Regions from separate parts of the Homo sapiens genome. Here regions 1, 2, 3, 4 and 6 are each linked to region 5. The links come from fine-mapping of genetic effects on gene expression. A gene starts in region 5. Each other region holds a variant in brackets. All regions are shown on one strand. Distances are between the middles of the regions.

The links. PIP is the estimated chance that this variant, and not a neighbour inherited with it, causes the effect.
Region 1: its variant is fine-mapped to the expression of EPS15L1 in monocytes after R848 (Quach 2016, PIP 0.91).
Region 2: its variant is fine-mapped to the expression of EPS15L1 in CD4 T cells (CEDAR, PIP 0.95).
Region 3: its variant is fine-mapped to the expression of EPS15L1 in whole blood (TOPMed, PIP above 0.99).
Region 4: its variant is fine-mapped to the expression of EPS15L1 in whole blood (TOPMed, PIP above 0.99).
Region 6: its variant is fine-mapped to the expression of EPS15L1 in whole blood (TOPMed, PIP above 0.99).

The regions. Positions count from the first base shown.
Region 1 is chr19:16,448,797-16,453,861 of GRCh38, forward strand. All of the region lies in intron 1 of EPS15L1 (epidermal growth factor receptor pathway substrate 15 like 1), which reads right to left. Among named protein-coding and RNA genes, the nearest start is that of EPS15L1, 21 kb to the right of the region's middle. RefSeq lists an enhancer at 4,772-5,065. The variant T/C (reference allele first, on the strand shown) is at 2,761.
Region 2 is chr19:17,037,215-17,042,279 of GRCh38, forward strand. No RefSeq gene overlaps it. Among named protein-coding and RNA genes, the nearest start is that of CPAMD8, 13 kb to the left of the region's middle. The variant C/T (reference allele first, on the strand shown) is at 2,055.
Region 3 is chr19:16,353,958-16,359,022 of GRCh38, forward strand. EPS15L1 (epidermal growth factor receptor pathway substrate 15 like 1) reads right to left here. Exons shown (of 24, transcript NM_001258374.3): 24 at 1,290-1,894. The coding sequence ends at 1,748. Among named protein-coding and RNA genes, the nearest start is that of KLF2, 32 kb to the left of the region's middle. The variant A/G (reference allele first, on the strand shown) is at 2,991.
Region 4 is chr19:16,433,196-16,438,260 of GRCh38, forward strand. It overlaps EPS15L1 (epidermal growth factor receptor pathway substrate 15 like 1), which reads right to left. Exons shown (of 24, transcript NM_001258374.3): 5 at 4,575-4,670; 6 at 3,742-3,804; 7 at 1,170-1,295. Among named protein-coding and RNA genes, the nearest start is that of EPS15L1, 36 kb to the right of the region's middle. The variant C/T (reference allele first, on the strand shown) is at 2,423.
Region 5 is chr19:16,469,849-16,474,913 of GRCh38, forward strand. It overlaps EPS15L1 (epidermal growth factor receptor pathway substrate 15 like 1), which reads right to left and starts at 2,122. Exons shown (of 24, transcript NM_001258374.3): 1 at 2,065-2,122. The coding sequence starts at 2,097. RefSeq lists enhancers at 1,300-2,211, 1,444-1,593 and silencers at 1,674-1,893, 1,954-2,353.
Region 6 is chr19:16,490,556-16,495,620 of GRCh38, forward strand. CALR3 (calreticulin 3) reads right to left here. Exons shown (of 9, transcript NM_145046.5): 3 at 1-15. Among named protein-coding and RNA genes, the nearest start is that of CALR3, 3.1 kb to the right of the region's middle. RefSeq lists an enhancer at 4,876-5,065. The variant C/T (reference allele first, on the strand shown) is at 2,905.

The sequences.
Region 1 (5,065 bases), 21 kb before region 5:
TCTAGCCTGGGTGACAGAGCAAGACTCCGTCTCAAAAAAAAAAGCCAGATAAAAAGGTGAAAAGGCAAGCTACAGACTAGAAAGAAAGGTTTGCAAAGCACATATCCAACAAATGACTACTATCTAAAATATATACTAGAGAGCTCTCAAATTCAACAGCATAAAAAAGAAAACAATCAAATTAGAACATGGGCAAGCCAGGCATGGTGGTGCGTACCTGTAGTCCCAGCACTTTGGGAGGCCAAAGCAGGAGGACTGCTTGAGCCCAGGAGTTCCAGACCAGCCTGGGCAACATAGTGAGACCCCATCTCTACATGAAATTAAAAAACTAGCCAGGCGTCGTGGTGCACACCTGTAGTCCCAGCTACTCAGGAAGCCAAAGCAGGAGGATTGCTTGATCCCAGGAGTTCAAGACCAGCCTGGGCAACATAACAAGATCTGATTTCTTAAAAAACAAACAAACAAACAAACAAACAAACAAAAAAACACGAAGAAGAAAAGAACATGGGCAAAAGATCTGAAGGCAAAAAGACATTTTACCAAAGAGGAAATATAGCAGATGGCAAATAAACGTATGAAAATATGTTTAACATCATTAGCAAAAAGAAGAATGCAAATTAAAACCACAGTGAGATGCCACTGCACGCTATCAGAGTGGCTAAAATAACAAATAGTGACAACATCAAATGCTGGTGAGGATGCAGGCAAACTGGGCCACTCATACACTGCTGATGGGAAAGTTAAAAGGTACGGTGACTCTGGAAACAGACTGGCAGTTTCTTAAAACAACAACAACAAAAAAAAACTAAACACAACATGAAACTACCGCATGAACCAGCAACTGTCCTGGGCATTTACCCGGGAGAAATGAAGAGTCATGTTCATACCACATCCTGTATGCAGTGTTGGCCACAGCTTTATATGTCACTGCTCCAAACTGGTAACACCCCGGATGTCCTCCAATAAGTGAGTGGTTCAGCAAACTGTGGTCCAAGCACACCATGGAATACTACTCAGCAATGAAAAGGAATGAACAGCTGACACATATGCAATAATCTGGATGACTCTCCAGAGAATTATGCTGAATGACAAAGGCCAAACCTCAAAGGTTACATACTGAATAATTCCATCACATAACATCATTAAAATGATAAAATTGTAGAAATGAACAGAGTGGTGGTTGCCGGGGATAAGGAAGAGATGGGCTGGGAGGGAAGTGGGTGTGGCTATAAAAGGGCAACAGGAGGGACGTGTTCTGTACCTGGCTATCAACAAGACCCTATCTCTACAAAAAAAAAAAAATAGCCACGCATGGTGGCACATGCCTGTGGTCCCAGCTACTCAGGAGGCTGAGGCAGAAGGATTACCTGAGCCCAGGAGTTCAAGGCTGCAGTGAGCTATGATCGTGCTACTGCACTCCAGCCTGGGCAACAGAGCTGTCTCTTAAAAAAGAAAAAAAAAGCTTTCAAACCTTGATTCCGTGCTCTGATGCCCTCCCCAGTCCATGTCATTCACCTTGCTGCTTTGCTGAATGTCTAAACTCTCAGGGGTGGTTCTATTGCTTCTCGGTTCCTCTCCAGGGCAGGGAACGCATGCCTTACCCCTGTGTCATGCCCCACTGCAGGCCCTGAGTTCTGTCTGGGCTGGACGGAGGCCGTGAGCCCCAGGCATGTCCATCTTCTTTTTTTTTTTTTTTTTTTTTGAGACGGAGTCTCACTTTGTTGCCCAGGCTGGAGTGCAATGGTGCGATCTCGGCTCACTGCAACCTCCGCCTCCCAGGTTCAAGTGATTCTCCTGCCTCAGCCTCCCAAGTAGCTGGGATTACAGATGCATGCCAACACACCTGGCTAAATTTTTGTATTTTTTAGTAGAGACAGGGTTTCACCATGTTGGCCAGGATGGTCTCGCCCTCCTGACCTCAGGTGATCCACCCGCCTCAGCCTCCCAAAGTGCTGGGATTACAGGCGTGAGCCACCACGCCTGGCCAGGGCATGTCCAACTTCTGCTGGTCTCGCAAGGTGGTCATTTGGGTCCCCAGAGAATCCAGGACTCTTCCTTCAGAACCTGAACATAGCCATCATCATCAATATCCCAGATGCAATACTGTACCACCATTATGCAAATGTTGCTTCAGAGGAAACTGGATAAATGGTACAGGCTCTTTTTTTTTTGAGACAAGAGTCTCGCTCTGTTGCCCAGGCTGGATGGCAGTGGTGCAATCTTGGCTCACTACAACCTCCGCCTCCCAGGTTCAAGCAATTCTCCTGCCTCAGCCTCCCGAGTAGCTGGGATTACAGGCACCCACCACCGTGCCCGGCTAGTTTTTATACTTTTAGTAGAGACCGGGTCTCACCACGTTGGCCAGGCTGGTCTTGAACTCCTGACCTCAGGTGATCTGCCTGCCTCGGCCTCCCAAAGTGCTGGGATTACAGGCGTGAGCCACCGCGCCCGCCCAGACTCTCCAACAACTGCAAGTGAGTCTACCATCATCTCAAAATGAGAAGTTTTGTTTTTTCTTTAAAGACTTAGGAAACCTAATGACCAAATGCAAGGTGACATTTGCAGACAATCAGGGAAATGTGAATATGGTCTTGTTATCAGATAATACCAATACCAAAGGCGTTATTATTAGTTGTGTAAGGTGTGATAAGGCATTGTGGTTATGTAAAGGAAAACGGTCTTAACTGTTAGAGGTGCATGTTGAAATACAATTTCTTTTATTTATTTATTTTATTTTTTTTATTTTTTTTGAGATGGAGT[T/C]TTGCTCTGTCGCCCAGGCTGGAGTGCAGTGGTGAGATCTCCACTCACTGCAAGCTCCACCTCCCGGGTTCACGCCATTCTCCTGCCTCAGCCTCCCAAGTAGCTGAGACTACAGGTGCCCGCCACCTCACTCGTCTAATTTTTTGTATTTTTTAGTAGAGACAGGGTTTCACCATGTTAGCCAGGATGGTCTCGATCTCCTGACCTCGTGATCCACCCGCCTCGGCCTGCCAGAGTGCTGGGATTACAGGCGTGAGCCACCGCGCCTGGCCTACAATTTCTAAGATTAAAAAAAAACAGGCCAGGCACGGTGGCTCACACCTGTAATCCTAGCACTTTGGGAGGTCGAGGCAGGCAGTTACCTGAGGCTGGGAGTTCAAGACCAGCCTGGCCAACATGGTGAAACCCTGTCTCTACTAAAAATACAAAAAAATTAGCTGGGTGCGGTGGCGTGCACCTGTAATCCCAGTTACTCTGGAGGCTGAGGCAGGAGAAATGCTTAAACCCAGGAGGCGTAGGTTGCAGTGAGCCAAGATCACGCCACTGCACTCCAGCCTGGGCTACAGAGTGAGACTTCGTCTCAAAAAAAAAAAACCACACAACAGGAGGCTGGGTGCAGTGGCTCACGCCTGTCATCCCAGCACTTTGGGAGGCTGAGGTGGGTAGATCACCTGAGGTCAGGAGTTCTAAACCAGCCTGGCCAACATGGTGAAACCCCATCTCTACTAAAAATATAAAAATTAGCCAAGCGTGGTGGCAGGCACCTGGAATCCCAGCTACTCAGGAGGCTGCGGCAGGAGAATCACTTGAACCCGGGAGGCAGAGTTTGCAGCGAGCTGAGATTATGCTACTGCACTCCAGCCTGGGCAACAGGAGTGAAATTCCATCTCGAAAAAAAAAAAAAAACACAAGCCAGAGCCAGGTGTAGTGGCACTCGCCTGTAGTCCCAGCTACTCGAGAAGCTAAGGCAGGAGGATTGCCTGAGGCCAGGAATTCCAGGCTGCAGTGAGCTATGATCACTGGGCCTCTGAATGGCTACTGCACTCCGGCCTGCACAACATAGCAAAATGTCATCTGAAAAAAAAAAAAAAAAAACCTAAGAACTAAAAATATACGTAGGTGGGGGAAAAGATCAAAGGGTGGTACAAAGAAATCTGCAAAATATTGATAACTGTTGTAAATGGGCAGTGGGTACATGGGAATTCATTAAACCCTTCCCTCTACATCTATTTTATTTTTTTATTTTTTTATTTTTTTTGAGATGGAGTCTCGCTCTGTCCCCCAAGCTGGAGCGCAGTGGCACGATCTTGGCTCACTGCAAGCTCCGCCTCCCCGGTTCATGCCATTCTCCTGCCTCAGCCTCCCGAATAGCTAGGACTACAGGTGCCCACCACCATGCCCAGCTAATTTTTTTGTATTTTTCTTAGTAGAGACGGGGTTTCACCGTGTTAGTCAGGATGGCCTCGATCTCCTGACCTCATGATCTGCCCGCCTCGGTCTCCCAAAGTGCTGGGATTACAGGTGTGAGCCACCGCGCCCGGGCTTTATTTTATTTTTCATAGAGACAGAGACTTGCTCTGTCACCCAGGCTAGAGTACAGTGGTGCCATCATAGCTCACTGCAGCCTCAACCTCCTGGACTTAAGGGATCCTCCTTCCTTAGCCTTCCAAGTAGCTGGGTCTATAAGTGCATGCCACCACACCCAGCTAATTACTATTTTTTATTTTTTGTAGAGACGGGGTCTTGCTTTGTTGCCCAGGCCAGTCTCTAACTCCTGGGTTCAAAAGATCTTCCCACCGGGGCCTCCCACGGTGCTGGGATTATAGGTGTGAGCATGCCCAGCCATCAACTTTTAATGTGTTTAAAGGCCATTTGGGCTGGGCACAGTGGCTCATGCCTGTAATCCCAACACTTTGGGAGGCCGAGGTGGGCGGATCATGAGGTCAGGAGATCGAGACCATCCTGGCTAACACGGTGAAACCCCGTCTCCACTAAAAATACAAAAAATTAGCCCAGCGTGGTGGCAGGCGCCTGCAGTCCCAGCTACTCGGGAGGCTGAAGCAGGAGAATGGCGTGAACCCGGGAGGCGGATCTTGCAGTGAGCCGACATCGAGCCACTGCACTCCAGCCTGGGCGACAGAGCGAGACTCCATCTCAAAAAAAAGAAAAAAAAAATGACTTATCGGGTACTATGTTCACTACCAGGGTGACAGGATCCGTATTCCAAACCTCAGCATCATGCAATACTCTCATGTAACAAATATGCACATGTACTCTCTGTATCTACAATAAAAAAAGCTGAAAT
Region 2 (5,065 bases), 570 kb after region 5:
CATCCCACCTGAGGACTATGCACCCATCCACCTCACCTAGGATTTACCCACACCCACCTGGGGGCCATGTCCCCACCCACCTCACCTGGGAGCTAACTACACTCGCTCACCTCACTGTGTCCCTACAGGGTGAGCACAGGCGGAGGGCAGGGAGTGGGGCAGGAGTGTCAGGGAGCAGGGCAGGGGTGTGTGCGTCTGTCCGGGAAGAAGGGTGGAGATGCTGCCTGCAGCCCTTTTTACCTGCACCTGAGCCCTCAGTGCAGCTCTGCATCAGACACTCCCAGGGCCCGGGGTCTGGTGACCGGCACCATCTCCTGTCTCTTAGGTGGCATCTCTGCCCAACCATTCCTTCTTAGAGGCTCCTGTGACATGAGAGCAGGAATGGGGCCTGGGACAGCACTGGAATAAGAAAACCGAGGCCCTGGCCAGGTGCGGTGGCTCACACCTGTAATCCCAGCACTTTGAGAGGCCGAGGAGGGAGGATCACTTGAGGTCGGGAATTCAAGACCAGCCTGGCCAACATGGTGAAACCCTGTCTCTACTAAAAATACAAACATTAGCTGGGCGTGATTGTGGGTGCCTGTAATCCCAGCTGCTCAGGAGGCTGAGGCATGAGAATCACTTGAACCCAAGAGGTGGAGGTTGCAGTGAGCCGAGACTGTGCCACTGCACTCCAGCCTGGGCGACAGAGCGAGACTCGGTCAAAAAAAAAAAAAAAAGAAAAAGAAAAAGAAAGAAAGAAAGAAAGAATGGAGGGGCAGGGTGGGAGAGAGAGAGAAAGGAAAAGAAACGAAAAGAATAAGAAAAGAAAAGAAAAGAAAAGAAAAGAAAAGAAAACAAAACTGAGGCCCAGACACGATTCAGCCCCAGTAGGCACCCTGGCAAGCTCTGCCTTCTGGGCAAGCAGGCTGGAAATAAAAGCACCACAGTGAACACCCTGGCCCGCCTCGGCTCCGCCAGCAGCATCTGTCCTGGAGAAGACGCCAGCTCAGTACCAGAAATGTTCCGGACACAACCTGGACCGGGCAGAAGCTGAGGAGCCACCAGGCTGCCAGCAGTTCCAAGCACATGCTAGGGGCTGCGGAGGGGGCTCGCCACCCTCTAACTCCCTGGGGGTGGCCTCGTCCAGCCCCGCAGGAGGCCTCTGTCTATTGGAGCTAAGCCTGGAGACGGCCACTCCGGCCAATGGCCTGTCCAACCCAGGTGTAGACAGCCCCTGAGTGAGGCAAGCAGGCACATGGCCCCCCAGGTGAGCTGAGTGGGTACATGGCCTGCCGAGGTGAGGTAGGCAGGTATAGGTAACCCCCAAATGAAGTAGACAACCCCCAAGATGAAGTGAACAGGTGTAGACAGCCCCTGGTAGACAGGGGCATGGTCCTCCAGATAAGACGGGTAGGTGCATGGCCTCCTAGACGACATAGGTGGTAGACAGCCCCCAGGTGAGGGGGACAGGCATAAATAGCCCCCAAGTGAAGTGGACAGGCATAGAAAACCCCCAGGTGAGGTGGACATGTGTAGAAATCCCCCAGGTGAGGCGGACAGGCGTAGAAATCCCCCAGGTGAGTTGGACAGGCGTGGAAATCTCCCAGGTGAGGTGGACAGGTGTAGAAAGCCCACAGGTGAGGTGGACAGACGTAGAAAGCCCACAGGTGAGGTGGGCAGGCCTAGAAAGCCCCCAGGTGAGGCAGACAGGTGTAGAAATCCCCCAGGTGAGATGGACAGATGTAGAAATCCCCCAGGTGAGATGGACAGATGTAGAAATCCCCCAGGTGAGATGGACAGATGTAGAAATCCCCCAGGTAAGATGGACAGACGTAGAAAGCCCAAAGCTGAGGTGGACAGGTGTAGAAATCCCCCAGCTGAGGCTGACAGGTGTAGAAATCCTACAGGTGAGGCAGACATGTGTAGAAATCCCCCAGGTGAGGAGGACAGTTGTAGAAATCCCCCAAGTGAGGTGGACAGGCATAGAAATCCCCCAGGTGAGGTAGACAGGGACATAGCCCCCAGGTGAGGTGACCACTTCCTTCCCTTCCTTCCTCCCATCACCAAATGTC[C/T]ACAGACACCGCCCCCACCCAGGCCAGCATACCAGGTGCTGGAGACTGGCCCAGCTCTCAGTGGCTCCCAATATTTTGGCAGATCAGTTCCAAACAGGTGCATTCTAGAAACTCTGACAGCAGGGCTCACCCCACAGGGCACCGGTGAGGATGGGAACCCAGGAATGTAAGGCCAGCCCTGAGCCTGGACCTAGTCAATGTTCCATAAACGGCAGCCTAGGGACACTGGGACCAGGCAGCCCAGGAGTGGGAGGGAGGAGTTGGCTCCTGCTGGATCATGGTGGTGGGGCAGGGTGGGGGTCGGGGGGATGTTGCAGGAGGAGACGTTTGTTTCATCACTTGTTCATGCAAACCTTCTGAGGCACCCTCGCCATTCAGCTCCCCAGGCCCCCATCCAGCCCACAGCCTCTGCCATCCCTGCCCTACCCTGGGACTTGGACTCTCATTGCCCTGTGAGCCCGGCTGGCTCATTCCCGCTTCCCAGCCAGCAGCCCCTCACCTGCCAGGGCTCCAATAAGCTTTGGCTCTGGAGGGCACCCACACTGCCCCTCCTCCAGCCATCTTTTTTTGGGAGTATAATTGGGGTATAATTTACATACCACAAAGTTGACCCAGTGAAAGTGTCTGGTTCAATAGATTTACTATTGATTAAGATCTATTTAATCAATAGATTTTAGTATACTTACAGTTGTGCAACTGTCATCACTTCTATTTCATTCTAGAACATTTCATCCCCCAAAAGGAGACCCCGTCCCCATTAGCAGTCACTCCCCATTCCCTCTCCCAAAGCCCCTGGCAGCCACTCATTGCTTCCTGTCTCTATGGATTTGCCTGTTGTGGGCATTTCATATCAATGGAATCTCACACTATGTGGTGTTTCGTGACTAGCTTCTTTCACTCAGCATTGTGATTTTGGGGGTTTTGTTTTGTTTTGTTTTTCAGACAGGATCTCACTGTCGCCCAGGCTGGAGTGCAGTGGAATGATCATAGCTCACTGCAGGCTTCATCTCCTGGGCTCAAGCGATCCTCCTGCCTCAGCCTCCCAAGTAGCTGGGACTACATACAGGTGAGCACCACCACACTCAGCTTTTTTTTTTTTTTTTTTTTTTTTTTTGAGACGGAGTCTTGCTCTGTCGCCCAGGCTGGAGTGCAGTGGCACAATCTTAGCTCACTGCAAGCTCCGCCTCCCAAGTTCACACCATTCTCCTGCCTCTGCCTCCCAAGTAGCTGGGACTACAGGTGCCCACCACCACGCCTGGCTAATTTTGTTTTTGTATTTTTAGTAGAGACTGGGTTTCACCGTGTTAGCCAGGATGGTCTTGATCTCCTGCCCTTGTGATCTGCACATCTCGGCCTCCCAAAGTGCTGGGATTACAGGCGTGAGCCACCGCACCTGGCCCACCCAGCTAATTTTTATATTTTTTGTAAAGCAGGGTCTAGCTATGTTGCCCAGGCTGGCCTCAAACTCCAGGGCTCAAGCGATCCTCCCTCCTGAGCCTCCCCAAGTACCAGGATTACAGGCATGAGCCACTGCACCCAGCCTTATTTGGTTTTTGTATGGGTCTGCTTTATTTTTCTGGTATTGGTCTTAAGTTCTCCAATTTATCTCCTCCCGTTCCCCCTTCATTTCTTTCCAATCAAGCTGTTTCTCTCCCTCCCCATCACTCCCCTGAAACTGATTTCATCAATGTTACCAATGATAGACAATTTCCTTAATTGAATGTTCTATTTGTGTGCTTGTTTTATTTGATTTACAAGAAGCATTGGACACAGCTCTCTTTTTCTTTCTTTTCTTTTCTTTTCTTTCTTTGAGACGGAATCTCCCTCTCTTTCCCAGGCTGAAGTGCAGTGGTGCAATCTTGACTCACTACAACCTCTGCCTCCCAGGTCCAAGCGATTCTCATGCCTCAGCCTCCTGAGTAGATGGGATCACAGGCATGCACCACCACACCGGTTAATTTTTGTATTTTACTGGAGACAGAGTTTCACCATGTTGGCCAGGCTGGTCTTGAACTCCTGGCCTCAAGTGATCCACCTGCCTCGGCCTCCCAAAGTGCTGGGATTACAGGTGTGAGCCACCATGCCCAGCCTCTTTTTTTTTTTTTTTTTTGAGGCAGAGTCAGTGGCGCAATCTCGGCTCACTGCAAGCTCCGCCTCCCGGGTTCACGCCATTCTCCTGCCTCACCCTCCTGAGTAGCTGGGACTACAGCCGCCCGCCACCACACCCGGCTAATTTTTGTTGTATTTTTTAAGTAGAGATGGGGTTTCACCGTGTTAGCCAGGATGGTCTCCATCTCCTGACCTCGTGATCCACCCACCTCGGCCTCCTAAAGTGCTGGGATTATAGGCGTGAACCACCGTGCCCGGCCCCATGCCCAGCCTCTTTAACAAACATCTTAATTGGCTTTATGATTGCAGGTGTACTTTGGTTCAGCAACTCCAAGGGCCCACATAACCTGCCTCAGAACTCCGCATATCTGCCTTCTTCCATCCTGTGGTCCCTCACACCAGATGTGGTGGGTGGCAGTCCTAACAGCCTCCTGTCCCTGAAACCTGCCGGTACCTCTCACTGCAACTCCGGGAGGCTGGTACAAATGCTCCTATCCCAGGTCAGCCCTGGACCCGGAGGCCAGAGACAAAAAGACCCCAGCTGGGCTTCCAGCTCCCCAGGGGAAAGTTTGGTGCCGAAAGGAAAATATTTACGTGGTTTGTAAGTTGAGCTATCCCCCTGCAGAAGTGATCAAAAGGACAGTAAAGATGGAAAGTCCGTGTTGTCGTGATGCAGGCTGTGCCAAGCCACGCAGCAGGCGTGATCCTGGAGGACTCTTCAGGGAGCTGATGGACGTGACCTGCCGACCCTTTTGTTTTCTGAAATCACCAAACATCTGCTGAGTGAGCTGCTTCCTGGACCCTTTTGGGAATGTTCCCAGGCTTGGTTGTTGAGGAAACACAGTGCAGGGGTGGAGTGGGTTCTGGAGGCTGCGACTTGGCCAGAGCCGCCTGTGTGCGTG
Region 3 (5,065 bases), 120 kb before region 5:
TTTTTTGACAGGGTCTTACTCTGTGGCCCAGACTGGAGTGCAGAGGTGCGATCTTGGCCCACCACAACCTCCACCTCCCAGGTTCAAGCGATTCTCCTGCGTCAGTCTCCCGAGTAGCTGGGATTACAGGCATGCTCCACTACCACCCGGCTATTTTTTGTGTATTTTTAGTAGAGACGGGGTTTCACCATGTTGGCCAGGCTGGTCTTGAACTCCTGACCTCAAATGATCCACCTGCCTCGGCCTCCCAAATGGCTGGGATTACAGGTGTGAGCCACCGTGCCCTACCTGCATTTTTTTTTTTAGACGGTGTCTTTCTTGTCGCCTGGGCCAGAGTGCAATGGCATGATATTGGCTCACTGCAACTCCACCTCCTGAGTTTCAAGTGATTCTCCTGCCTCAGCCTCTCGAGTAGCTGGGATTACAAGTGCGCACCACCACGCGCGGCTAATTTTTGTGTTGTTTTTTTTTAGTAGAGACAGGGTTTCACTATGTTGGCCAGGCTGGTCCCCAACTCCTGACCTCAAGTGATCCCCCCCACCTCGGCCTCCCAAAGTGCTGGAATTACAGGCATGAGCCACCGCACTCAGCCAAAAAAACAGAGCAATTCTGAATAAAGTAAGGACTCTAGTTAATAATAATGAATCCGTATTGGTTCATTAATTGGGATGTAAGTAATGTGTAATGTAAGATGTTAAAAATAAGGTAAACTCTCTAAGGGGCTTATGGGAACCCTTCGTATTTTCTTTGCGATCTTTCTGCAAATTTAAAACTGGCCAGGCACAGTGGCACATGTCTGTAATCCCAGCCCTTTGGGAGGCTGAAGTGGGAGGATCACTTGAGCCCGGGGAAGTGGAGGTTGCAGTGAGCTGAGATCACACCACTGCACTCCACCCTGGGTGACAGAGCTCAGACCCTGTTTCAAAAAAAAATTTTTTTTAAGGATAAATTGTCTAAGGGGCTTATGGGAACTCTTTGTATCTTTGTGATTTTTCTGCAGGTTTAAAACTGTCCTAAAAAATAAAGTTGGTTAAAACATAAAAATGGGCAGGGCTTGGTGGCTCACGCCTGTAATCCCAGCACTTTGGGATGCTGAGACAGGAGAATTGTGTGAGTCAAGGAGTTTGAGACCAGCCTGGGCAACATGGCAAGATCTCATCTCTTAAAAAAAAATTTTTTTTAAAAGTAAAAACTTAAGATTTAAAGAGCAATGTTCCACCTGGTTGATCTGCTTCCTGATACCCATGCAGGGAAAACAATGTTTACAGAGATTAAAGAAGCTTCTCTTGTTTTGTATTAAAATATTTTATATTAATCATTCAAACTTCATTTTATACAACGAGTGCATACACCACTGGGGGAGTGTCTGACTGATGCGTGGGAGGGCGGGTGGGGATGTCTGCAGCTATGAGTAGGGAGGAGGCGGGGAAGCCCTGGGTGCTTCCTCTCCTCGACTGACCGCTGTGTGTTCGTCCCCAGAGGAAGAGCGGGAGGCAGTCAGCCCCGGGGGGGATGGCACAGTGGAGAGACGGACCTGCAGAAGTGGTGGCCAAGGCCTCTGTAAGGGCTTCCCCAGGAGATGTGACCTTTCCAGGTCTTGCAGCCGAGTCTGCTCACCCTGAACAAGCCCCCGAGTCCCGGTCCTTGGAGTACGGTGGCGACGGTGTGTGTGTGTATATATAGACATCTGCACTGCCCCCTCTCTGGAACCCGCCCGTGCCCTGTCCCGCCTACACACGGCCCTCGCCTAGGCGGCAGGCATGTCAGCCTTGCTGAGCGCGATGGCCAGTTCCAGGTCCTCCTGCTCCTGCCGCCGCAGCCGCGCCAGCCTCTCCTGTTCCGCCTTCTCGCTCTCCCGCTTGGCCCACGCCAGCTGCTGCTCCTCATTGCCAAACTGCAAAGGAAAAACGGAGAGTGGGTGATGTGGCCCTGGGGCTGGGACCTGCAAGCTGGAGGGAGGCAGGGAATGCGTGGGAGGGGTCAGGGTCCTGCCCACCGCCCAGCGGAGGGTCCGATGTGCAGGGGATAAGCATGTCTTGGCTGGGCCCAGTGGGCGTGCGAGCCTGTCTCAGGCCCCCCATCTGGAAAGCAGAGTGGACGGGATGCATGTGATTGAGTGTGACCTTAACCATGACCTCTGGGCCTCAAAGAAACCAGCCACCCCGCCCCACGCAGAGAAGTGAGGATGGGCCCTTGACGCTGGTGGCCAAGAGGTGCAAAGATGGGGAACTTCCAGCGTGCATGGCTCTAAAGCCCCACGGCGCAGACAATTCTGCACTCTGGGAATGTGGTATTTCTACCTCCAGCCATGCTCCAGAGAGCTCTGAGACCCTCTGAGGGTCATTTTCTTTTTCTTTTTCTTTTTTTTTTTTTGAGATGGAGTCTCGCTCTGTCGCCAGGCTGGAGTGCAATGGCGCGATCTCGGCTCATTGCAACATTCACCTCCCAGGTTCAAGGGATTCTCTTGCCTCAGCCCCCTGAGTAGCTGGGATTACAGGCATGCGCTACCATGCCCAGCTAATTTTTGTATGTTTCGTAGAGACGGGGTTTCACCATGTTGGTCAGGCTGGTCTTGAACTCCTGACCTTGTGATCCACCCGCCTCAGCCTCCCAAAGTGCTGGGATTACAGGCGTGAGCCACCGCACCCGGCTCTGAGGGTCAATTTCTCCCAGAACACTGACAAAAGGTGTGGCACTTACACTGCCATTTAGTCAAGTTTTTATCCGTGGGGTGTTTTTCTAAAATGTTCAGTTAAAATAAAAACTTAAAAAAGGGAGAAAACCATCTTGATGCTGAGATAGGTGATTTCAAACAACTCAAAGTACTTTAGTCATGAAAAGAAAAGCCACATCCCACAAGCTCCTCCCCCAGGGTGGGTCCCAATGTCCCAGACTTCCCTGAGAGGTCACTGGCATCATCGGCCCCCTCAGGAAAGCTGCTGCTGCTTAGGGATTCAAAGGATTCCCTTATTAATGTCTCTCTGCGATGC[A/G]CTGCCTCTGACCAGCTCTCTGCTCAACACTGGAGTAACACCAAAGATAACATGCGCAGTGGCTCTTCCCCAGGCACCCTTGGGAGCAGAAATATACAAACAATCCCAGAACGATCCAGGACCCAAGGACCCAGGCTCTCGAGGAGGGCCCTGCAGACTAACCCAGGAAGGTGGGGGAAAGAAGCACACAGGAACACTCACGGCCTCTCCACCACACGCAGCACTAGGTCTGCGTGACAACCTGGGGGTGGGCCCGCTGTCATCTCATCCCTCTGACAGCTGGGGACACTGAGGCCAGGGAAGGGGTGGCTCACACTCTAGACTTTTTCCCCCCCAGGCCTGTGGGGAGCAGGATACTAGGTGAAACTGACAGGGAGGATGCGTCCCTGCGAGGTTCTGGGTGTGAGGCTCAGTGCCCGACCTTGGGGTAGCCAGGATGAAGCGTGGGGTGGGATAAGCCAGACTGAGGAGGGGCTCGTGGGCCCCAGGAAGGAGCTGGGATTTCCCCGTGGAGGCTCCTTGGGCGAGCGAGTTGGGTGATCAGATTGGCAGCGTCTGGATATTTCACGGCTTGATGGTGGCATGAGCGGGAAGCAGGAGAGAGGAGGGCCAGATGGCAGGGCTGGGGGGACTGGGCAAGGTGCAGGAGCAGATAAATGCAAGGAACCTGGTTGGGAGGCAGATGTGGCAGTGAGGGGGATGCGGGGCCCTGGAGGCCTCCCTCTAGCTGGCCTCAGGACCCAGATGGGGGACAGGCGGAGTGTCAGTATCAAGAAAAGATGTCCCTGGGAGGAAGGGCTGAGTCTTGACTTCTTAAAGAGGCACTGCCCAGCTAAACACTTGGGGGTCTGATGAGTCTCCAGGTCGGACTCCCTCCCCGCCATTGTGTCACTGCCAGGGGCACAGATAAGCATCCCCCCCGCCCCAGTTTGGGGAATTTTCCAACACCTCATGGGGAGAAAAACAAGGAAAAACCAACAAGTGCAGGTGGAAATTATTCCATGGTGCTGCTGACAACAGTGGGAGGGAGACAGTGCAGCTGACGGGGACCTCACCCTCCACCAGCCTTGAGGACAGGGTGGGTGGGAGCTGACAGTAATGTTCGCCTGGATCCAAATCAAAGCCTGGAACGACCAAGTAACCGGCCTGCTGGGTCTGAACCACAGCCCTCTGGCCGCCTTTGGCCCCACTGAGCCCCCGTGTCACAGTGTCACTGAAGCGCCTTCCCTTGACGGGTCTGTGTTTCCAAATGAAAGGTGTCAGCAGGAAAGTTCCTGGTGCCTTCAGAGTCGACCGGTTCAAGGCCAGCTCACGAATCCACTGTGGAGACTTGCATTGGTGAGGTCTGTATGCACTTAGGAGGCACGCTGGGCTGTGAGGCCTGGGAGAGCTCTCCTGAAAGGGGACTCCGCAGCTCCCTCTGTGTCTGCTGTCTTAGCCCTGGACGGGGCCACCTTCTAGTTCTCGTATCTGGGTGGGTCACACGGGCCAGAATCTGGATGTCTGTGGCCGATGCAAAACCAATAGTGGCTGGGAAACACACTGGCTCTGATTTCTGCTTCCCTCTGGCATTACCATGGAACCGAGACACCGTAGGGGCATGACACCACCCTAGCCGAGGCCTGCCCACTCAGGATGGGGTTCATTTTCAGAAGCAAATAAGTGGTTCATTTCAGCAGCCTCTTGGAAATCCGCAGTTTAGACAGCTCGGCACGCTGGGCGATGGGATGGCCCCGGGAGGCGCCCGGCACCTGTCCTCACTGGCGCTCCAAGGTGTCTGATGGCACTTCCACCCCACCATGTGCAGGACATGCCTAGCCACTTCCCATTCATTCATTTACCGACAATGAAATTGTATCCAACTCCTTCAATAATTCGAAGCACGGCCTAGCTGATCTGGTATTTGCACTACTCTTAATGCGAACTTCCAAAAGAACCGTTCCGCTAACCTAGAAATGCCACTTCCTAATACACACATTTGCCTGAGACAGAAAGGCCTGCTTTTAAAGAAATACCAGAGAGGGAAGAGGTTTCCCGGGAACAGCCACACACGCAAATAACCCATTGATGGAAAT
Region 4 (5,065 bases), 37 kb before region 5:
CAGCTCACTGCAATCTCCACCTCCTGGGTTCAAACGATTCTCCTGTCTCAGCCTCCCAAGTGTCTGGGATTACAGGCGAACACCACCACACCTGGCTAATTTTTGTATTTTTTTTTAGTAGAGACAGGGTTTCACCATGTTGGCCAGGCTGTTCTCGAACTCCTGACCTCAAGTTATCCACCCACCTCGGCCTCCCAAAGTGCTGGGATTACGGGCGTGAGCCACCGCACCAGGCTAAGACTTTCTTTAAAGAGAATGCATAAAATTTTTCCTAAATTTGCAGCAGAGTTGAAAATACTTTTACCTTGAGCTTTATCAGAAGAAAAAGAGTAATTAATAGTAGAAAAGAGCCAGGAGTGGTGGTGCTCTTGCAGTCCCAGTTACTCCAGAGGCTGAGGTGGGAGGATGGCTTCAGCCTGGCAGTTCGAGACCAGCCTGGGCAACACAGTGAGACCCCATCTCTAAAAACTCAAAAAAAGAAATAAAAAAGCCCGGGTGTGGTGGCTCACGCCTGTAATCCCAGCACTTTGGGAGGCCGAGGCGGGTGAATCTGAGATAGGAGTTTGGGACCAGCCTGGCCAACATGGTAAAACACCATCTCTACTATAAATACAAAAATTAGCTGGGCGTGGTGGCATGCACCTGTAATCCCAGCTACTTGGGAGGTTGAGGCATGAGAATTGCTTGAACCGGGGAGGCAGAGGTTGCAGTGAGCCGAGATCGTGCCACTGCACTCCAGCCTAGGCAACAGAGCAAGACTCCATCTCATAAATAAATAAATAAATAAATAAATAAATAAATAGACACAGACACACATTCCCACATTCAGCACAATGGAAAGGGGGAAAGCCCAAGTTGGGGAGCTTAAGACTGAGCTCTACTGGTCCCAAAGCCCCAGGCAGCAATTTCACTTCTGAGTCCACCTCCTCATCTGTGAAGTGGAAGGATTCTGGCACCTTCCCCAGGGACTGGGTGAACACTGTAAGCCACACCCTAGGAAGCCCTGAGCCAGCTGGGGCTGGACCCACAGGAGCGCTGATGAAAGCCCCTGATGGCACAGGGAGAAAACAGAGCAAGAGCCTTGTAAGCACCATGGGGAAAGAGAACAGTGGCGCCCACACACAGCAGGGACACTGAGTGCAGAAGAACCAAGCCCGTGGCCCACTTACCCTGCCCAGGACATCAAGAGGCAGCTTTGAGTTCATGAGGACTGGCTTGACTTTGTCTCCAGAGAGCAAACCATTGATGGGCAAGAGGCTTTCAAAAATCCCATCAAATTTGGCCTTTTCTTCCACCTAGTTGGAAAGAAATAGCCCGAGTAAGTAGGAGAGCACACCTGTGTGAATGTCCAGACCGAGCTCTGACCGAAAGCCAAGTGAAAATGGCCACGGACCCATCATCACCCTTGGCTAAAAGCACAAAATGATCTTAGAACAGTCTTGGCCCCTTGGTTTCCAAAGTGAACATATACCCTGAAGGAAATAACGTTATGGCAACCTCGGATCTGGGAGCCAAGGTCCTCAGGAGGGAGGCCCTGGCCCCGGGTCTTGTCCTTCGTCCTAGCTGCTGCCTGAGTGTGGCAGGAGTCTCCCATGGTGGGGCAGTGTCTTTGCAGGGAGACAAAGATCAGTCTCACCTGCCTCCAAGGAGCCCACTTGTACCAGAAAGACAAAAGTGTGAGCAGATGTTAGTGCTTGAGCAAATAATTATCAAAATCAACTTAAAGTACAGGAAGTCCTCTTTTTTTTTTTTTTTTTCTTTTTTTGAGACAAAAATCTTGCTCTGTTGCCCAGGCTGGAGTGTAGTGGCACAATCTCAGCTCACTGCAACTTCCGACTCCCAGGTTCAAGCAATTCTCGTGCCTCAGCACTCGTACCTCCCGAGTAGCTGGGATCACAGGCATGCGCCACCAGGCCCGGCTAATTTTTGTATTTTTTGTAGAGATGGTGTTTCAACATGATGGCCGGGTTGGTCTTGAACTCCTGGCCTCAAGTGATCCGCCTGCCTCGGCCTCCCAAAGTGCTGGGATTACAGGTGTGAGCCACCAAGCCCAGCCACATACAGGAAGCCCTCCATTTCTAATGGTAAATAAATTAATACGTAAATAGGAATAGCTCTTCATGAACAGAGGGAAGGTACAGCATTAGGATGGGGAGTCACAGTTCCTGCTGTTCTGAAAGACATAGGGCAGGCAGCCCGTAAAAGGGGCCATGAGTGAGGCAGTGGCTTCCAGTCTGTTCCACCCTCCAAAGGAAACTTAACATTCCTGAACTGTACACTTAGAAATGGTTAAGATGGTAAATGTTACATGATGTGTCTTTCAACCACAATAAAAATTTTTTAATTTTTAAAAGACAAAAACCAAGACAGAGCCCTCAGTCACAGAGATGAGATCACCGGCAGACACCGCATGCTTTCACAG[C/T]TGTTGGTGCTAAGAAGCTGAGCGCTGCAGGTCTTTCTCGGGGGCCTGGGATCCTCTCCTGGCCATCGGACTTGCTGACTCAGTGCCTTCAGAAGCCCAGAAATGTTCACAACGGAAACAAACACTTGGCACTTCGGGCTTGTTCTTTCTGACTGTGGCTGTGAATGGAATGCAGAATCTCTCTCGACCACAGTACACCCCAATTACAGCATCTGGTCCTGTGCTCCCTGACTCCTCTCTGCGAGGTCCCCAGGCCCCTCAGTCCCAGCTCTTCCAGTGAGGCCTGGACATAACCCCTGGTGGAAAAGAGCCATCACATTTTAAAGTATAAGATCTCTTGGCACTGTTTCCCATGACAAAGTAGCTCTTTTTCAAAGTCCACACAATGCGCTGGGTGACAGGGAGAAACCCTTCACCACAGTGATTGCCACTGGCAAAGTGCTTGATGACAGAGGTGACTGCATGACTCCTCAGTCACATGACATATCTTCATGTCCTCTCCCTGCACAGATACCCCCACCCAGCCCATGACCTCTCCAAGAAGGGAGCAAACCAACCGTGTAAACATGGGACGAAAGTGCTTGGGACCTTTATTTGAGAGCAAGAGTGTTATTCATGTCAGGATTTAAGCCACATAAACGTGAGGAAATGTGACAGTCTGAAAGTGAAGGGAAGGTGAGGAGGCCTGATGTTACTTGGAGGGACCATGCTCACTTCCTTTAGAAGGAATTCTGTACTTAGAAGACAGCCCTCGTTTTTTTTCTTCTTTCTGGACGCAGTAGCTTATCTTTCCAGCCACAACATCCTCTGTTTTAAAAATAACACTTCAAGTGCTGAGAGAGGCTTTTCACAAAGCAATCAGAACATCAGGGAGGAAAGAATGGTAACATGCAAAGTGGCTGGAAAGAAGCGAGAAAGCAAGGGACACATTTGGGGGTCCACGTGCTTGCAAGCTCTCACCGTTTCCTCTTCTATTCTGAATAACCAACACAAGCAGCAAAAACCACAGAATGTGACCTAAAGATGCAAGATTTAAACTGCAGCCCTTTAATAATCCAACTCCTGACACTTAGTTGTCCAGGTAGGCAACTCCCAATTCCAGTGAAGGGCCACAGCCTTTGTAAAAGGTGTTCATTAGAAGAGGCGTTTCATCCAAGTGCTGTGGCCACTCACACTGAGACAGAAGAGCTGACACAATCATCCTATAAAATGTTCTGAACAACATCAAACTAGAACAATTCCAGAACAATTCTAGAACAACTGCTGGAACAATTCTATCTGAAGGAGAGCCAAGGAGGGAGCTATTCCCGTTCACTTACCCTCACAGCCCAGTGGGCCTCTGCAGAGGGCGGTGTGACCATCAGAGGGCTGCTGGTGTCGTGCTGAGAAGAGAGAGAAACATTCCTTTGTGGCTGGCACAGAATTAAATCATAGGTGGGTGGGTTTGCTGAAAAGGATACACGTTTCAAAGTGCTTTCAAAAAAGGGAAGACTTCACAAAGTTAAACACAGAATCACCACATGACCCAGCAATTCCACTCCTACGTATTGACCCAAATGAATTAAAAACGGATGTCCAAACAAATCCTTGTACATGAATGCTGGTAGCAGCACTATTCACAACAGTCAAAAGGGTGGAAATAACCCACATGTCCAGAGAGATGAATGGATAAAGATGTGGTCCATCCAGTAAATGGAATATGGAAACACTGATCCATTCTACAACATGGATGAACCCTGAAAACACGATGCTGAGAGAGAGGCCAGACACAAAAGACCATGTTAGAGAATTCCATTGATAGGAAATGTCCAGAACAGGCAAATCCATTGACAGAAATAAAATTAGTGGTTGCCAGCGACTGGGAGGGGGAGACAAGGAGTGATTACTTAATGTGGATGGGGTCTCCTTGCGGAGGGATGAAAAAGTTCTGGAGCTAGACAGAGGTAATGAAGACACAACACTGTAAATGCACTAAATACCACTAAATAGTTCACTTTAAAATTATTAATTTTCTATTATGTGAATTTCACCACAATAAAAGGGGAAGGCTAGAGAAAACATGGAAATATACATGCACATACACACATGCACATACACACACACACACATCTGGTATTAGAAGAATGTGAACTTGAAGGACTTGGACACTCACAAATTTAGGCGGTGGCATGCTCAAATTCAGATTGCTCAAGGTAACTTCATGGCCACTCTGTGCACAGGCCACCAGTCTCAGTGCAACATAGAAACCCTGCAAGTCCAAAGAAAGGGAAGGAGTAAACAGCATATCGCCAGTGAGGGTAGGGGGAGCTGTCTCTAACAGCAGGCTTCAGGGAAAGAGGATGTGCACTTCAACAATGAAGGCCGTCCGTGCAAAAACCCCTTGGAGCGTTGGGCTGAACTGGACTCACCTTGGGGACATCGCTTAAATGAATACACTAAAATGGACTTATCCTGGCCAGGTGTGGTGGCTCATGTCTGTAATCCTAGCACTTTGGGAGACCGAGGCAGGTGGATCACCTGAGGTCAGGAGTTCGAGACCAGCCTGGCCAACATGGCGAAACCTCATTTCTACTAAAAACATAAAAATCAGCCAGGCGTGGTGGCAGGTGCCTGAAATCCCAGCTACTTGGGAGGCTGAGGCAG
Region 5 (5,065 bases):
AAAATTTTGGAATTATACCCTTGGTTCCCCCAGAGTTATCTGTGAACCCAAGTGATCTCCTGAGCTAGACAGTAAGGGCCTGGGAGGGCCATGCCTCACACCTGGGCCAACAGTAACCCATGGTGTAGATTTTCACTCGAGAGCAAGTGTAAAGAAGTGCTGACATTTCCAAACGAAGAAAACCAGGCCACGCCTTCATTCAACAAATGTATAGGGAAAGGAACAGGAAGAGGCTAAGAAGTCAGTGACCTGGCCAGGCGCAGTGGCTAACGCCTGTAATCCCAGCACTTTGGGAGGCCAAGGCGGGTGGATCACTCGAGTTCAGGAGTTTGACACGAGCCTCGCCAAAATGGTGAAACCCCGTCTCCACTAAAAAAAAAATACAAAAATTAGCCGGGTGTGGTAGCACGTGCCTGTAGTCCCAGCTACTCAGGAGGCTGAGGCAGGAGAATCACTTGAACTCGGGAGGCGGAGGTTACAGTGAGCTGAGATCATGCCACTGCACTCCACCCTGGGTGACAGAGCAATACTCCATCTCAAAAAAAAAAAAATTGGACAGGAAGTTTTAGAAAGATCCACGCCTCCCAAACTGGGAGTGCTTAGTGCTTTCTCATGAAATGATCTTAGGTGATTTTCCCCCGACTCCCGCCTTCCCCGCCCCCCACCCCCTGACTACATACTCTAAACTGTAGCACTTAGCTATTAACACCTATTATCGGTAGGACACTTAACAGTTTACAGAGCACTTTCATGTCAGTAACAAGAACTTGCTAATTAATAATCACCGGGTTTTAGCACTGTTAACTTAGTGACAGTGTTGCAAATTGGCTAGCTGTGCACTTCTCTCTCCTTGGATCAGCTAACCAGTCATGCAAGCATGCAACCGGCCTATCAACTCTCTTTGGGTTTGGAATTCTTAATTGCTGCGGTCTCTACTCCCAAACGTCCAAATCTGGCAGAGATTAAATGATGACAGTAATTATAGGATCACTGAGTGCCTCTCATATGCTAGGCACTGTTCTAAGCGCTTTTTCACGTGCTTAATTTTCACATAATCCCAACACATTTTTATATCTCCATTTTCCAAAGGAAGCAACTGATGGGTGGAATGGCTAAGAGCTTCAACCAAAGGCACAGAGAAATCGGGGCTGGAGCCAAGATTTGAACACATGATCTGACCCTGTGTCCTCACTCTTAATCACCATGCTGTGCTAGATCATTCTAGCAAAATGCTTATATGGTGCTTTGCACAACACAGGTATTCAGCAAATAAAGGCAGCTGTGATTAGCATAACACAGGTAGTTTCTAGTTCCCACGAGTGTCACCTCCAGGAAAGCAGCGACCTTGTCTGTCTGGAAGAATGCAGCGCTCCCAGCACCTGACCCAACGCACATTTGAGGGATGGATAGAAAATGAATGAATGAAAGTCTCTCCCAAATAACAGAGCTGCCTACGCATGGCTCTTTTTCGCATGTCTGTGTCGCGCTATCGATACTGCCCCTTCATAAGCGCATCAGGCGAATTTGAGGACACAGAGAGGCGCCCGGAGACGTACGATCTGCGCCCGGTGCAGGGGTGGCGGAAGCAGCTTCCAAGGAGGCAGGGGATCAGTCTGAGATCGCACTGCTGCTGACGGGTCCGGGCTCCGGCGGGACCCTGCCCGCCCGGGCGCCGGGACCGGAGGGAGACAAAGACTCGCTGGGCCGCCGCGCCGACAGAAACGCTCGCACCCCTCGCCCACCCCTCCGGGATGCAGCCCAGCGCCTCCGCGGGTCCCCGGCCTGGGAGCTTCAGCGGCGGCAGGGTCCGGGCCCTGGGCGGAGAGGACACGCGCTGCGCACCTCCTCGCCTCGCCGGTGCCCGCGAGGGTCGCTCGGGCACGGGAGGCCGCGGGTCCCGGCCTGTCACCTTCAGGGCCGCCTGCCCACCCGCCCGCCGCAAGCCCTTCAGCACGCGCCGCCCCCGCCGCCGCCTGGCTGAGTCTCCCAGCGCCTCAGCCTCGCCGCACCGCTCGCCTCGCGCCCCGCACCCCGGCGCCGCCCCCAGGCCCGCCCGGCCCGTACCTGCTGGGAGAGGGGGATGAGCGGCGCCGCCATCTTCCCGCGGACTCGGGCTCCGAGCGCCGGGGGAACGGGGGCGGGGCTGCAGCCACGCGTGCGCACTGGGACGACGGGAGGGCGGTGCGCAGGCCGCCTGTCCCGGGAGAGGGCGGGGCCGTAGACAGGGCCACGCATGTGCAGTCAGGCCGGGAGGGGCGGGGGCAGGGGCGGGGCCGCCCACACGCAGCCTGGAGGGGCTGGGCCTGAGGCATCTGCGTCTTCCGTGCTCTCTTGCCCGTTCCCCTACTCCTCCTTCCAACGTTGTTCGGACTCTCATGCCGCTGGCCGCTGTCCGAGTCGACCATGCTGTGTCATCCCTCCAGCCCATGCCGAGGCCTGGTTCTCTGTTAGGGATGCCGTCCCCCTGCCAGTGCGCCTGGGGAGGCGGTCGCCCACCCCGCGGAGGGTCGGGACCCTCACCCTGCCCCGCAAAGCGCCCTGTTCCTAGGATCGCAGTGTGTGTGTGTGTGTGTGTGTGTGTGTGTGCGCGCTAATTTGGGGGACCCGCACCCTGCCCCCCTCACCCTGCCCCGCAAGGCGTCCTCCTGGCTGTGGTGGCGGGCACCTGAAATCCAAGCTACTCAGGAGACTGAGGCAGGAGAATTGCTTGAGCCCAGGAAGCAGAGGTTTCAGTGAGCCAAGATCACACCATTGCAATCCAGCCTGGGCAACAGAAGCGAAACTCTGTCTCAAAAATAAATAAATAAATAAGACAAGAACCCACTTGTTGCCAGGTACAGTGGCTTACACCTGTAATCCCAGCACTTTGGGAGGCCGAGGTGGGAGGGTCATGAGGTCAGGAGTTGGAGACCAGCCTGGCCAGTATGGTGAAACATCAATATGGTGAAACCCCATCTCTACTAAAAAAAATACAAAAATTAGCAGGTGTGGTGGTGCATGCCTGTAGTCCCAGCTACTCAGGAGGCTGAGGCCAGAGAATCACTTGAACCCGGGAGGTGGAGGTTGCGGTGAGCCAAGATTGCACCACTGCACTCCAGCCTGGGTGACAGAGTGAGACTCTGTCTCAAAACAAAGTCAAAAACAAAAAGAACCCACTTGTAACTGTTGCTAATCAAAGCATACATTCAGGGCAACTTGAATCTGTGTCTCCTGGACTGCGGTCCTCAACCTTGGCCCAAACTCTCTACTTATATTAACTTTGCCTCAGCTTCTTTTGTTACATCAATAGAGTAATGAAGGTTTTTAACAGTCTTGAGTGCTTTATCAGTACGTATTCCATAAGGAAAAGAGAAGTCCTTCTAGGTACTTCAAACAGAGGATATTGAATACAGGGGATTGAGCCAGGCTCTGTGGCTCACACTTGTAATCCCAGCAATCCAGTTGAGACAGGTAGATTGATACCAGCCTGGCCAACATGGAGAAACCCCATCTTTACTAAAAATACAAAAATTAACCCAGTGCAGTGGCAGGTGCCTGTAATCCCAGCTACTCAGGAGGCTGAGGCAGGAGAATTGCTTGAACCTGGGAGGGGAAGGTTGCAATAAGCTGAGAACTCACCATTGCACTCCAACCTAGGTGACAGAGCGAGACTCTGTCTAAAAAATAAATAAATAAAAATAAATGAATACATAAACGACTACAGGGGACTGAGTATAAAAGTGTTGGAAGTACTGGAAGAACAAAAGAGGAAGGTAAGTTTACCTAAAGATTCATAACTATATGAGGCTGCTAGCCTCTCTAGAGCTGAAAGATTAAAGCAGGGGAGGTGGCTGGGCATAGTGGCTCACGCCTGTAATCCCAGCACTTTGGGAGGCCGAGGTGGATGGATCACCTGAGGTCAGAAGTTTGAGACCAGCCTGGCCAACATGATGAAATCCCGTGTCTACTAAAAATACAAAAATTAGCCGGTTGTGGTGGTGGGCACCTGTAATCCCAGCTACTCGGGAGGCTGAGGCAGGAGAATCACTTGAACCTGGGAGGCGGAGGTTGCAGTGAGCTGAGATCACGCCACTGCACTCCAGTTTGGGCAACAAGAGCGAAACTCCGTCTCAAAATAAATAAATAAATAAAGCACAGGAGGACCCATAACCCACAATCACTGTGCCTACAGAAGGATCCCAGATGTGTTCACCCTTGCTAGCCACAGTTGCCTCCACCATGATTGCGAAAGTCACAGTTGTTGTTGTCACCACCACCTAAGCCACTGGCAGAAGTCTGAAAAAATGGTTTCTCCCCTCTTTCTGCCTCCCAACTTTGTTCTAATAAAGCATGACAGGAACGTTGCCAATTGGCAACGGCGTCCAGGAAATGTAGCATGCAGGCTTTAAGTGCCAGTATCAGAGTCTAGAATGGTGGTGGCCATAGAAACTCTCCAGCATCATCTTGTAAAAATAATCCAAACTTGGCTGGGCGCGGTGGCCCACACCTGTAATTCCAGCCCTTTGGAGGGCCGAGGCAGGCAGTTCACGAGGTCAGGAATTCGAGACCAGCCTGGCCAACACAGTGAAACCCCATCTCTACTAAAAATACAAGAATTAGCCAGGCGTGGTGGCGGGTGCCTGTAATCCCAGCTACTCGGGAGGCTGAGGCAGGAGAATTGCTTGAACCTGGGATGGGGAGGTTGCAGTGAGCCAAGATCGCACCATTGCACTCCAGCCTGGGCAACAAGAGCAAAACTCCGTCTCAGAAGAAAAAAAAGAAAAAAAAAAAGGCCGGGCATGGTGGCTCACGCCTGAAATCCCAACACTTTGGAAGGCCGAGGCAGGCAGATCATGAGGTCAGGAGATCGAGACCATCCTGGCCAACATGGTGAAACCCCATCTCTACTAAAAATACGAAAATTTAGCCGGGCATGGTGGGGGGTGCCTGTAGTCCCAGCTACTTGTGAGGCTGAGGCAGGAGAATGGCATGAACTCAGGAGGCGGGTCTTGCAGTGAGCCGAGATCGCGCCACTGCACTCCAGCCTGGGCAACACAGAAACTTCGTCTCAAAAAAAAAAAAAAAA
Region 6 (5,065 bases), 21 kb after region 5:
GAGTGGTTTGCAGACCTTTGAACAAAATATACTCATGAAGGATCAGGAATGACGCTGCGCTAAGTAACGCAGGAAGTTAAATCGATGTCCTTCCCTTACTCCCAAACATAAATGTCCTAACCATTTACAGTGATCTACAGTGCCAACAGAGCATTATACAATAATGCATAATGGGTAGACCACTAGCAGGCACTCTGCTTCTATATAATTTTTTTTTTTTGACATGGAGTCTCACTCTGTCGCCCAGGCTGGAGTGCAATGGCGTGATCTCGGCTCACTGCAACCTCCACCTCCCGGGTTCAAGTGATTCTCCTGCCTCAGCCTCCTGAGTAGTTGGGATTACAACTACAATTAGCCACCACGCCAGGCTAATTTTTGTATTTCTAGTAGAGATAGGGTTTCTCCATGTTGGTCAGGCTGGTCTTGAACTCCTGACCTCAGGTGACTGCCCGTCTCAGCCTCCCAAAGTGCTGGAATTACAGGTGTGAGCCAGCGTGCCTGGCCCATACAACTTTTATTTCACACACCTGGAAGTTTTTGTTCTTAATATACCACTGTTCTTAATTAGTTAATTAATTATTTTTTGAGATGGAGTCTCGCTCTGTCGCCCAGGCTGGAGTGCAGTGGCACGATCTCTGCCCACTGCAAGCTCCACCTCCTGGGTTCACGCCATTCTCCTGCCTCAGCCTCCCGAGTAGCTGGGACTACAGGCGCTGGCCACAACACCCAGCTAATTTTTTGTATTTTTAGTAGAGACAGGGTTTCACCATGTTAGCCAGGATGTTCTCGATCCCCTGACCTCATGATCCGCCTGCCTCGGCCTCCCAAAGTGCTGGGATTACAGGCGTGAGCCACCGTGCCCGACTGGTCCCTTTCCTAAACATTCTACTCTGCCTTTTCAGCATAAAAGGCAGCCATAGACAATATATAAATGAATGGACTGCCAGGCATGCTGGCTCACGCCTGTAATCCCAGCACTTTGGGAGGCTGAGGCAGGCGGATCACGGGGTCAGGAGTTTGAGACCAGCCTGGCCAACATGGTGAAACCCTATCTCTACTAAAAATACAAAAATTAGCGGGGTGTGGTGGCATGTGCCTGTAGTCCCAGCTACTCAGGAGAGTGAGGCAGAAGAATCGCTTAAACCCAGGAGGCGGAGGTTGCAGTGAGCCGAGATTGCACCGCTGCACTCCAGCCTGGGTGACAGAGTGAGACTCCGTCTCCAAAAAAAAAAGAATGGATGTGGCTGTGTTCCAGTGAAACTTAATGGACACTAAACTTTCTTTCTTTCTTTTCTTTTTTCTTTTGAGACAGAGGCTCGCTCTATTGCCCAGACTGAATCTCTGCTCACTGCAACCTCCGCCTCCCAGGTTCAAGCGATTCTCCTGCCTCAGCCTCCTGAGTAGCTGCGACTACAGGCGTGCGACACCATGCCTGGCTAATTTTCATATTTTTAGTAGAGATGGGGTTTCACCACGTTGCCCAGGCTGGTCTTGAACTCCTGGCCTCAAGTGATCCACTCACCTTGGCCTCCCAGAGTGCTAAGATTACAGGTGTGAACCACTGTGCCTGGCCTAAACTTTCACATATGTGAAAGCAAATACAATTTAAAGCCTTGAGAGGCCAGGCATGGTGGCTCACATCTGTAATCTCAACACTTTGGGAGGCTGAGCCGGGTGGATCACTTGAAGTCAGAAGTTCGAGACCAGCCTGGCCAACGTGGGGAAACTCCATTTCTACTAAAAATACAAAATTAGCCGAGCGTAGTGGCGCGTGCCTGTGGTCCCAGCTACTCGGGAAGCTCAGGCAGCTGAACTGTTTGAACCTGGGAGATGGAGGAGCCATTGCACCCCAGCCTGGGTGGCAGGGCGAAACTCCGTTTAAAAAAATAAATAAGCCAGACGCAGTGGCTCACGCCTGTAATTCCAACACTTTGGGAGGCCGAGGCGGGCGGATCACCTGAGGTTGGGAGTTGGAGACCAGCCTGACCAACATGGAGAAACCCTGTCTCTACTAAAAATACAAAATTAGGCCGGGCGCGGTGGCTCATGCCTGTAATCCCAGCACTTTGGGAGGCCGAGGCGGGAGGATCACGAGGTCAGGAGATCGAGATCATCCTGGCTAACACGTGAAACCCTGTCTCTACTAAAAAAAAAAAAATACAAAAAATTAGCCGGGCGTGGTGGCAGGCGCCTGTAGTTCCGGCTACTCGGCAGAAGAATGGCGTGAACCCAGGAGGCAGAGCTTGCAGTGAGCCGAGATCGCGCCACTGCACTCCATCCTGGGCTACAGAGCGAGACTCCGTCTCAAAAAAAAAAAAAAAAAAATTAGCCAGGTGTGGTGGCACATGCCTGTAATCTTAGCTACTTGGGAGGCTGGAAGCAGGAGAATCATTTGAACCTGGGAGGCGGAGGTTGTGGTGAGCAGAGATCACGCCATTGCACTCCAGCCTGGGTAACAAGGGTGAAACTCTCTCTCAAATAAATACATAAAATAAATAAAAACCTTGAGCAAGTTGTGTGATCTGAGTCATGCAGCATGCAGGTGTAACCTCTGCTTCTTAAATCATAGATAAACCTTCTTCCTCATTGTTCTTGTTTGGCAAATGACTAGGACAAACCAGAGACCAGGCCTCCTCTATTTGTGACCACTGACCTTAGTTACAGATTAACTGCCTCCAGGACTGACCTGTACCTAACTCAGACCAGATGGCACAAAAGATGCCGTGACTGTTACATCTTCAGGGTGAAATGTTAAATATACCTTCTCAAAAGAAAAAGACCACCTTGACTAATGGGATCATGGTCATTATCTATCAAGCCTTGCCTAGAAAGATGCTGAAATTCTGTTAAGCTTCTCTAAACTTTGTCTATACAAATGATCCCAAACTTCTACACTTCAGAACA[C/T]TGACTTCTATTCTTTGGGATCTGTGTTTTCCACACAGTTGTCCTTAAACTTTGAGCTTGAATTAGCTCTCTTGAAGCTAGAATTTTTTTTTTTTTTTTTTTTTTTTTGAGACAGAGTCTTGCTCTGTTGCCCAGGCTGGAGTGTAGTGGCACGATCTCGACTCACTGCAACCTCCGCCTCTCGGGTTCATGTGATTCTCCTGCCTCAATCTCTCAAGTAGCTGGGACTACAGGCCTATGCCACCATGCTCGGCTAATATTTGTATATATATATATTTTTTTTCTTGAGACAGAGTCTTGCTCGGTTATCCAGGCTGGAGTGCAGTGGCATGATCTTGGCTCCCTGCAACCTCCGCCTCCTGGGTTCAAGTGATTCTCCTGCCTCAGCCTCTGAAGTAGGTGAGATTATAGATGTGTGCCACCATGCCCAGCTAATTTTTGTATTTTTAATAGAGACGGAGTTTCGCCATGTTGGCCGGGCTGGTCTCAACCTCAAGTGATTCGCTTGCCTTATCTTGACCTGCCTGTACAAAAGTAAAAGCTCATTGTGTTGTACCCTGAAGAATGTGCAGGCGACAAGATGTAATGTTTATCTCTGTATTTTTTTCTTTTATTTTTTGAAATGGAGTCTCATTCTGTCACCCAGGCTGGAGTGCAGTGGTACAATCTCAGTTCACTGCAACCTCTGCCTCCTGGGTACAAACGATTCTTCTGCCTCAGCCTCCCAATTAGCTGGGATTATAGTTGTGCGCCACCACACTTGGCTAACTTTTTTGTATTTTTGTGGAGACAGGGTTTCACCATGGTGACCAGGCTGGTCTCAAACTCCTGACTTCAAGTAATCCGCCTGCCTTGGCCTCCCAACATGCTGGGATTACAGGCGTGAGCCACCGTGCCTGACCATATTTTTCTTTTTTTTTGAGATGGAGTCTCACTCTGTCACTGAGGCTGGAGTGCAGGGGCATGATCTCTGCTCACTGCAACCTCTGCCTCCCGGGTTCAAGTGATTCTTCTGCCTCAGCCTCCCGAGTAGCTGGGACTACAGGCATGAGCCACCACACCCAGCTAATTTTTGTATTTTTAGTAGAGACAGGGTGTCACCGTATTGGCCAGACTGGTTTTGAACTCCTGACCTCATGATCCGCTCGCCTAAGGCCTCCCAAAGTGCTGGGATTACAGGCATGAGCCACCGCGCCTGGCCTATTTTTCTTTTTAATACGAAAATTAAAATGAGAAAAAGTACCCACTAACCTTTTCCTTCTGAGGGGCATGGCCCTTGATCCTCAAATGCACTTGACTAGTGTCTATTAAGAGGGGCAATTTTGGTAATGCCTACTAATAACACATTCATATAAATATAATCCAAAGAAGGTTAAATACCATTGCATATTTGACAGTGCTTCAAGTATGATTTTATTATACCAAATAAGCTGAATATGTCTCCTTGGACTTCAGGGGACCTAATACCAATAAAAGTAATAATAATGATAATAGGCCAAGCACCATGGCTCACGCCTATAATCCCAGCACTTTAGGAGGCCGAGGCAGGTGGATTACTTAAGGCCAGGAGTTTGAGTCCAGCCTGGGCAATGTGGTGAAACTCTGTCTCTAAAAAAATTAGCAGGGCATGGTGGCGCACGCTTGTAATCGCAGCTCCTCAGAAGCCTGAAGCAAGAGAATCACTTGAACCCGGGAGACGGAGGTTTGAGTGAGCCAAGATCGTGCCACTGCACTCTAGCCTAGGCGACAGAGCGAGACTCCTACTACCAAAAAAAAAAAAAAAAAAAAAAAGGAATCTTTGGCAATAAAGAAAGGAGAGAGGAGGCTGGATGTTGTGGCTCATGCCTGTAATCCCAGCACTTTGGGAGGCCAAGGTGGGTGGATCATGAGGTCAGGAGTTCGAGACCAGCCTGGCCAACGTGGACCCTGTCTCTACTAAAAGTACAAAAATTAGCCGGTCATGGTGGCGCGCGCCTGTAGTCTCAGCTACTCGGGAGGCTGAGGCAGGAGAATTGCTTGAACCCGGGAGGTGGAAGTTGCAGTGAGCCGAAATCGCGCCACTGCACTCCAGCCTGGGCAACAGAGCAAGGCTCCGTCTCAAAAAAAAAAAAAAAAAAAAAGGAGAGAAGAAACAAAAAAACAAGGAAAGGAGCCCCTTAAG